2 separate regions of the Homo sapiens genome follow, and region 2 is linked to region 1. The links come from fine-mapping of genetic effects on gene expression. Tissue or cell type: whole blood. Region 1 holds a variant in brackets; the other region holds the start of a gene. All regions are shown on one strand. Distances are from middle to middle.

Evidence for each region.
Region 2: it holds the start of ACKR3, and the variant in region 1 is fine-mapped to the expression of ACKR3 in whole blood (INTERVAL, PIP 0.98).

Annotation. Positions count from the first base shown.
Region 1 is chr2:236,534,787-236,539,297 of GRCh38, reverse strand. It overlaps a transcript of ACKR3 not described here. Among named protein-coding and RNA genes, the nearest start is that of DRC11, 30 kb to the right of the region's middle. RefSeq lists enhancers at 1,035-1,084, 2,188-2,407. The variant G/A (reference allele first, on the strand shown) is at 1,941.
Region 2 is chr2:236,567,621-236,571,854 of GRCh38, reverse strand. ACKR3 (atypical chemokine receptor 3) reads right to left here and starts at 2,030. Exons shown (of 2, transcript NM_020311.3): 1 at 1,931-2,030. RefSeq lists enhancers at 2,794-3,669, 3,670-4,234 and a silencer at 3,971-4,020.

The sequences.
Region 1 (4,511 bases):
AATGAAAATAATGTTTACACAAAGAGAGAGAGAGAGAGAGAGACACACACACACACACAAATGTGTCTATCAAAACTCATAGAAGTATTATTCACAATAGACAAGAACTGGAAACAACCCAAAGGCCCATCCAGACGTGATAATAAACTGTAGTATTTTCTTACAGTAGAATACTACTCAATAATAAAAAGGAACAAACTACAATAGAGGCAGCAACAGGGATGAATCTCAAAATAATATACCAAGTAAAAGAAGCAAGACACAAAAGAAGGCATACTGCATCATTCCAGCTACATGAAGTCCTAGAACCTGAGAGCACAATCTATAGCCCTGACCAGAAAGGTGAGCCAACACAGCCTGTCCGCGCCTACTTTGCCCTGAGCTAGAGTATCCAGGCTTAGCAAATAAAAATACAGGATGCTCAGCTAAGTTTCAATCTCAGGGAAACCACACATCACTTCTTAGGATAAGAATATCCCAAGCAATATCAGAAATATGCATGACATCTACCTGCATGGAACATACTTATACTGAAAAACTATTCCTTGTTCATCTGAGATTCAATTTTAATTAGGCAGTCTGTATTTTATCTGGCAACCGTGCCTACACTGTAGTTTGCTGTTGGCTTTTTAAGGGCAGGGCAGATATCTACTCATCAAGAGGTCCACTAGACTTGGTCTTACCCCAGCCACTTCTCAGAAGACAGAAAGCAAGCTCTGCCCCGGTCCACCTTAGAACTGCAGCCCCTTTCCATGCTTGGGGCCAGTTTTGCCATTGATTTCTCCAAGGGACTCCTCAGTAGGAGGGTGGGGGTGGCAAGTCTTGCCATCCATCCAAGGTCAGGGTGGTGAGCCCACAGCACCTGGCTTCCGCTGTGGCCACAGACAGAGCCCAATCTCTGACTCGGATGGATCCTTTTGACCACGTTTTTAGTATTTCAAGTTGTGAAAATATATCATCACTGTGTTGCTGTTTCATTTCGGCAATCTGTGTCTGTTCTGCTTTTCTTTTCAGGAGACATCTAAAGCTCCTGTTACTTTGCAGAACACACTCAATAACAGTTAATCAAGTCAGGGATTATGGCCACACAAGGTTTTTAGCAAGTTTCTGAGAAGTCAAATACCAGGTGTGATGTGTGCTAGTATTAACCACGCTGCCCAAGGAAAGGATCTGGCTTATGTATATTGCTTTTCACGCTAGAAAAAAAAAAGAAAACAAAACCTCTTTGAATCAAGACCTGTTAAGAGTTGTTTGGGGAATTATTTTTAAAAGAACTATTCTTTTTGGAATACCTACTTCCAACATAAACACTTTCTTATTAGGTTATTTTTATTTTTCTAGCCTAGCAACTAAAAAAATGTAATCTGCAGAACTGATTGCCTAATAGAAGCACATTTGCTTGCTTGCTTGAAAGAGCATGAATACGCATTAGTGAAAGAAAGAAAACTGAATTTGATAAGAACATTAACCCTTTTGGAGAAAATGCAGACAAAAGTAAAGGCGGTGGAAGAGAGCACGTGGGTGATGAAGCTGGGACACATTTTCCCTCCCTCCAGTTCTTGGAAAATTCCTAATTCTGGCTCATAAGTAATAGTAGCAAAAAGGTAAAAACATAAAATTAAAGCAGCCACGTAAAGAGGCAAAATTCTTGGGATTTAAGCCATTCAGAAGGACAAGTTGTCCAGGTCTCAATGTGTACAGAGATATCCAAGGGGCCCTGTACCACTTGCATTTATGCCAGGGTGGCCCAATGGAGAACTGCTGTTCAAACTTCAGGGTCATGGATTATTATGACACTAATAAAAATGATGAACCTGCTTCCTAGAAAAAAGCATATGCACCCATGGGCCCATACATTTACAGGCCATTCGAGAGGCTGAGACACTGCCCCAAGCCTATTCATGGAGCCCTGGTAACAATCCTTGTACTAGGCAAAACCA[G/A]CCTCCTTACCAGCTTCTGCCTCCTCCTGGCTCATCTCCACCAGCCGCTCACACTTAGGACCAAGGCAGGCTGCCCCTGGGCTTGACCTTGGCCTCCTCCATTCTCCCTGTCAGCAGGTGGCAGCCATCCCATTGCTGGTATTCCTAGAATCCAATCAGGATTAGTAGACCGCTTGCCACAGTGCTACACAGCCAGGTAACACCGTGTTTAACCAAGCAGTGGTGAGAGATTTGGGGCAGGAAAGGGGCTGAGCTTCTGCAATGCAGACAGGCAGCGTGGAGCCTCCCAATACCACTTCCTGCAGGGCCCAGGGCAAGGCCCTTGCTCTCTCTGAGTTTCTGTGTCCTCATCTGTAAATGGGAATAATAACAGTGACTGCCATAGGAGCTGCAAGGAGGATGAGATGATATTATGCATATAAAAGTGCCAGACAGTCTCTAGGCACCTAGAACCCTCAAGGGGCCAGCTGTCATAACTGCCGACAGTTCACATGCGTCTGTGTTTCACTATTAGTTTCACTTCACACCTGCAGAGGGATTTACACACTGCAAGGCATTTCCTTTGGAAATTTATTATTGTAATTCCCTATTAACTCACAATACCCAGGAGATAGGAAATAAATTATTATTCCCATTTTACAGGTGAGAAGACTAAGACTCAGATAGATACGTTAGGTGAGTTGCTTTTCTTGACTCCCAAAGCTGGTACCTTCCCCCGGAATCAGGTCATCTAGCAGAAACCCAGGAATTGAAGGTGATCAATGTTCCCTCCCCCAGATAGAAAGACATGGGTTACCCACAAGCTACAACCAAGTTCATGAACAGTGCAGAAGCCTTTCTTGTTCCCGTCATATCACAGAGCTCTCTGCTTGAACTCAACGTCACGGCTTCTCATCCCACCTTTTACTCCAGCCACTGTGGCAGCAACAAGCTTCCTGCAGGAGGTACCTGTGGGCACCTTTTCTATGACACACGCATGGTGCCCACACAGCCTGGGAATGACTCTGTGTGGCAGCCCTGGACCAAGGGAAGGCATGTACTGGATGACGGCTCCTCCTTCTGTCCTCAGGCAGACCACTCTGAGAGGCAAGTCCCCCCCAGCTCCTCAGTGCCCAGTGGATGGGATCCGGCAGCCCACAGTGGCGGCCAGCCTGAGGAAGCACTGTGGAAGACCTTGCCCTTCTCCCCACTTCACTCTCTCAGCCCTGCTCCTGTTCCCTGATATGAGCTCCCCGAACAAACCCCATCATGCTAGGCCTAATACCTGGGAGGAACCCAGTCTCCAGCAGGAGCCCTTGCTCTTGTCTGTCTCCCTTTCCTCCCACTGCCCTCCCCACCATCCTCTGCACCCACCTCCCTCTGCTGGCCCAGCTAGGGGAGCCTACCGGACACCAAGAAAAACCTGTCTTTATAAAAGCTGCTGTGACTCAGGACTCAGAAGGTCCCCTACTCCACTGGGGCCTATCATGAGGTAGAGAATGGGAGGAGAGAGAGGACCAGGAAAAATAACAAATGCGTACTAGGCTTAATACCTAGGTGATTAAATGATCTGTACCACAAACCCCCCTGACACAAGTTTACCTATGTAACAAACCTGCACATGTACCCCTGAACTTAAAAGTTTAAAAAAAAGGACTCCCCTCCCAAGGGACTGGATCCCAACATCAAAGTTCCATGACTGATTGCCTGACATCAGCACTCCCCTTCCTCTGGAAGGCCCCAGCTTGAGATCCGGGCTTTCTTCCGTCATGGCCAAGCCAACTCTGCGGGGACAGAAGCACTGCTCCTAAACCCCCACCCCAGGGCTTCCGCCTTTCCACCCAAGGCGAGAAGCCAGCAACCTTCCCCAGCTTCCCTCGGATTCCTCCTTCCATGCGTGACCTTGATGGGAGGCCCTGACACTTCAGCCAGGGTAGTCTGGTGCCAATCTTGACTGGAGTCAGACCCACAGGTAGCTGATTTATTGGAGATAGAGTCTTCTTAGCAAGCCTCCACTTTCGGTTGATTCTACACCCAGGGCCTCACACACACCCATGCCTGCCTCATCCTGACCCACGGGTACAACACCAGGTTCATATCTGCCATGTTTGCATCAAGCACACCGCCAAGCTCTGCCTGTGAAACATTAGAAATACAATGAGTAATAACCACAGCATTCCCTGGCCTGGCTCCAAAAACACTGCATTGCTCCAAATCTGCTCCATCCTAGACCCCCAACCCAGTTTCCTGCTGAGGTTTCGGCTCTCTTCCTGACCCCTTCCGTGAGTGAGAAAATATGTGAATATGGAACTACAGGACTGGAAACAAGCATCCACATTTGCTAGAAAGTTTCCTCCTCAGAGCCGGAAGGGCCTGGAATCCTATGGAATTCAGAATAACCAGAAATGGACAAAACCTCCACTCGAATGGATGAAATTCCCCTGAATAATAATGATGGGAAATTGCTTGCCGTGTCCCAACAAGCCTTAGTGGGTCCCGCGGAAGGAGGCCATGGGGATGGAGCTTCTCAACCCCAACTGTCCCCTGTGAAAGCCCAGCCTGGCTTCTTTTTAGTTAGGATCCCAGCTGCAT
Region 2 (4,234 bases), 33 kb before region 1:
CACAAAAAAAAAATCTAAAGTTTTGCAATCTTTGAGGTCTTTTTCTTTCCCCTCGGTTACTCTTAAGGTTTATAAAGTGACTGCCCTTCAGCCTCAGGTTTGAGTGACTTCAACCAATTTCCCTCACGTCGACTTGAAAACAGGAGCTCTCGCCCTAAAATGATCACACAAAAAGCCACTGTTCCTGATTAAGCAGGGTTTTTTGTTTTGGGTTTTTTTTTTTTTTTTTTTTTTTTCATTCAGAAAGCCTATACTTGGCCTGTTCTGGGCCTGATTAGAAATCATAATACCTTCTCAACGCTTCAACGACTTGCTGTTAATACGGGGAAAACACACCCCCAAAGCCCTGCGTGTGTCGCACAGGCATGCTGCCTTGGCGATGCTTTATGGAACTTTTTTAAAACTACGTCTGCAATGTCTGCCCCTTAAAAGAGAAAAGCTGATGGGCAGCAAACTGCAGCCATTTCTCCATCTTCCTTCGCTTTCCCACCCCCATCCTGGGCAGCTTTCCCCTCCCCCCAATCTCCTGGAGGTTGTGGCATTAAGCTCTGCAGTTGTGTGCACATTCAAGTGTTTATGGCAGAGACTGGGGAAAAAAGAGCAAATTGTTTCCAAGCTAGAGCTCCCATGTGCAACTTTGCTTTAGAAAAGACTTTCCATCTGGGGAAAGCTCATATTCTGATGAAAGAAGGGCAAGCAGTTTATCCATTTAAAATCTATGGAAAGTTAAAGCACAGAAACCAGCAGCCTCCACTTTCTTTGCTAGGCGTGCCTAGCTGATGTCCACATTTTTCCTGGAATAAATAAAGGGACACTAAAAGCAGCATCTGCCTTTAAAAAAGAAAAGAACAAAGTTACCATGTTGAGACTTTGCAGACTGAAGTTTCAGGGGATGTCACTGCACCAAATACATTCAAAGGGCTGTAAACCATTTAAGGAGGCTCTCTCCCACTTTTGAAACACTAAGTAATCCTGTTGTGAGCAAAAGGAAAGAAAGAAAGAAAGAAAGAGGAAGAGAGAAAGAGAGACAGCCAGTCTGACTTTTACAACTTCTCATTCTCCCTGGAAGTTACAAGTCTTGGCTAACCACCCATCCCTGACCTCACTCCAAAGTTCTCTCAGTCACTCCTTGAATCTTTGCACATGCCAACAAAATTGAACAAAATCCACATTTTACCTGAAGAGTATATTTAAATTGCAAAATAGTAGATTTGTGTGTGTGCTTCCCCCAACCCCAATTGAAGTTGGACTTAACACCTTCTAAGAGAACAATACTCAAATTAGATTAGCAAGCGTGCCATCAAGAGAAGAGAAGACCGGGCTGTGTTTAACATTCACGTTTATAGCTTCCGGACTTACAGACTCTGGTAAATCCCCCAAAGTACTGAATTCAAATACATCTTGGACTCACAAAGATTCTCAGCAGTTTTCTGCTCCATTTAAGGATGCCTCTTAATAAAGTGTTCATCATTCTGGAATTACGTATTTACTGCCAATTTTATCTGTTTCCAAACTGATATACTAGAAGCAAAACAGGTAAACAGTGGGTGCCAAGCTAATCCCCATGCCAAATTGGTCAGGCAGAATGGATAGTCTGTGTTCTTGCAAAGTTCCCCTGCTTACTGGAGCTTAAATAGCCACACAGCAAATAAACACCAGATTCCTAAATACACATGGAAATTTCCTTCTGCAAGTGACTTAAGAAAACTGCCCTTTGCTTTCTGAAGAGAAAGGTGAAGCCCTCCGAATTAGCAAAAGCACTTTGCAATGCAGCTGCGTGCAGCCTGGGTTTTCAGAAACCAGACCCGCAGACTCAAAAGCACCCATCTGAGCGATTTTAAAGAAGGCCTTTGAAAAGACCACTTGGCTTAAGAGCAGAAGCCGTGCCTTCTTTCCGAGCAGAGCTGCTGCCCGAGCACCGTTTCCTTACCTCCGGGCTGGCTGGGCTGGCTGGGCTGGCTGGGCTCGCTCGCCTTCCTGGCTGTGCTGTGCGCTGGCTCCCTTAGTGCTGAGCACTTTGCAACAACTGTGAGCTCTGCTGGCTGCAGACTTGCATTATATACACTGCAGAAAGGAGCCTCTAGCCTCTAGATGGCAGCTTTGTAACCCACATCTCTCTCTCCCCCGTGCCACCCCCATCCCACAGGCAGACACACACACACACACACCCCCCTCTTGTAAACCTCACTAGTCTGTTGTTTCCTGCACAAGTGTACTCTTGGGAAACCCCAGCCTTCTTTCATTTGCAAAATCTGGTGAAGCCACAAAGTCCAAACCCCACGGGGGGAAAACGTCAGCCAAAGACAAACTGCAAAGAAACCCTAGTGCTTGGCAAAATCATCAAATATTTATCTGGTCTCAGGTATATCTTGAATAATCCCATTAACACCAAGAGCTCCTGTGAATGCCTCTTCGCTCTAGGGAGGACTTTGTTCCCAAGACAAATTACTCTGAACTTCTGAACTTCGATGTTGATTTACTAAGCCTGGGTTTTCCTTGTTAATTCCTCCAAAACAGAAGTAACAGTTTTGGTATGACCAATGAATCGATGCCACACCGTATATCCCCAAAGTGGAGAAAAGAGTCTTTATAATAGATTATACTTGAATACTTTTATTTGTAAAGGACTTTAAGTACAAAATCCTTGAGACTCTAATCAAGATAGTATTCTACAGTGTCTGCCCAGTGCCAGACACGCATTAGGAAGATAATAAATGCCTTTTGATAATGTCTTTTTCTGAGATGAGTCTGGCAAACACTTTACTACAATTATTGCAATCTACATTCTTATTTGGATGCGTATTGCTAAAGTTCCCCCCACGGAGGAATTCAACCTAAAAATGTGATCCAGGTGATACTCATCTCCAATGCCCCATTTACAAAAATCGTCCATAAGATAGGGACCCAAAGGCCACCCGCCAGCCCATCCCATGTGCAATGCTCTGGCTTTCGTATTGCTTTCTGATCTCCTGGAGTTCTTAAAGAGCGGCTCAAGTGGAGTGTATGAAGGCACCAGCTGTATTCACGCCTTCTCCAGAGCTAAAACTTTTCGAGATTCTTTTTATACTTCTACTAAAAATAACAGCAGACGCTCGGTCCCAGCGCTGAATCTGGGGGACTGGGAGGTCAAAGTCTCACGTGGCTAGAAAGTCTCCGTGTGGAGAAAGCCCTTAACGAAAGAAATATTTTGTTTAGCTAAAAGCTTCACATTTTTCTCCTGAACTGGCTGCCCAGCGGGAGGCGAGGTGCACACCTGCTCTCCGGGGGCCTCCGGAGGGGTCGCCCTGGGGCCGGCCTTTCCCAGCCCGAGCGCAGCGTCCCGCCACCGCCTCTGCAGGGCGGCGCAATCACTCTTCGTGTCACATCGGCACCAAGGACATCTCCAGGCTCCCCAGAGACGCTGGAAAGGAAAACTGCCAGCGGCTGCGTCTACCCACACCCAAGATCTAGGCGAGACCTCGACTCTCCACAGCATACGTGTCCTGACTTTTTCTGTCCTGTTTCTTTCTTGTGGGGGACCCTGTGTCTGAGCCCGCTGGAAATGTACGGGGATCCCCTCTGGACTGCAGCTCGGTTTCCGCTTTCTGTGGCTGTAGCCGTGACTCCGGGGCCTGTCCTTCAGAGAACGCGCTCCGCATTGCAGAGCCTGCGCGCCCGGTGGAAACACAGAGTGGGTGTCAATCCGTTCTGAGCTAAGTGTACTGTCGCTGGAAGAAAGGCCACATGGGCCGGGGACCCCGGACAGGATGCTAACGTAGAGGAAGGAAAAGGCAACGCAGTTTTTTTAAAAAGTAGAACCCGCTTCGTGCGTCCGGGGCCAGAATCCACGAGGCCGCCTTGCAGCAGCCTGCGCCCTGCCCCGCCAGCCCCGGCCCCGCGCCCACCCACGGCCTGCACCCAGCCCCGCACCCACACACGGCCTCGCGCCCTCCCACAGCCCCGCGCCCTGCCCCGCACCCACCCACGGCCCGCACCCACGCCCTTCCCCGCGCCCAGACTTGTTCCGCACTCACGCACGGCCGGGCACCCGGCCCAGGCGCCTGCGAGAATTCTGGCCCCGGGGTCACCGCCCTCGCCCTTCGACGTCCCCCACCCGTCCCCTAGTTCCGCCGGGCGGGGCTGCTGGAGGCTTCCAGACGGGGAGGGGCGGACCAAGCGCCAGCGGGGAATGGGGCGGGGTGGGTCGGGAACTCTGGCCAGGCTCCCACCCTGGGAGGAGGAGCTGGGTGCTTGG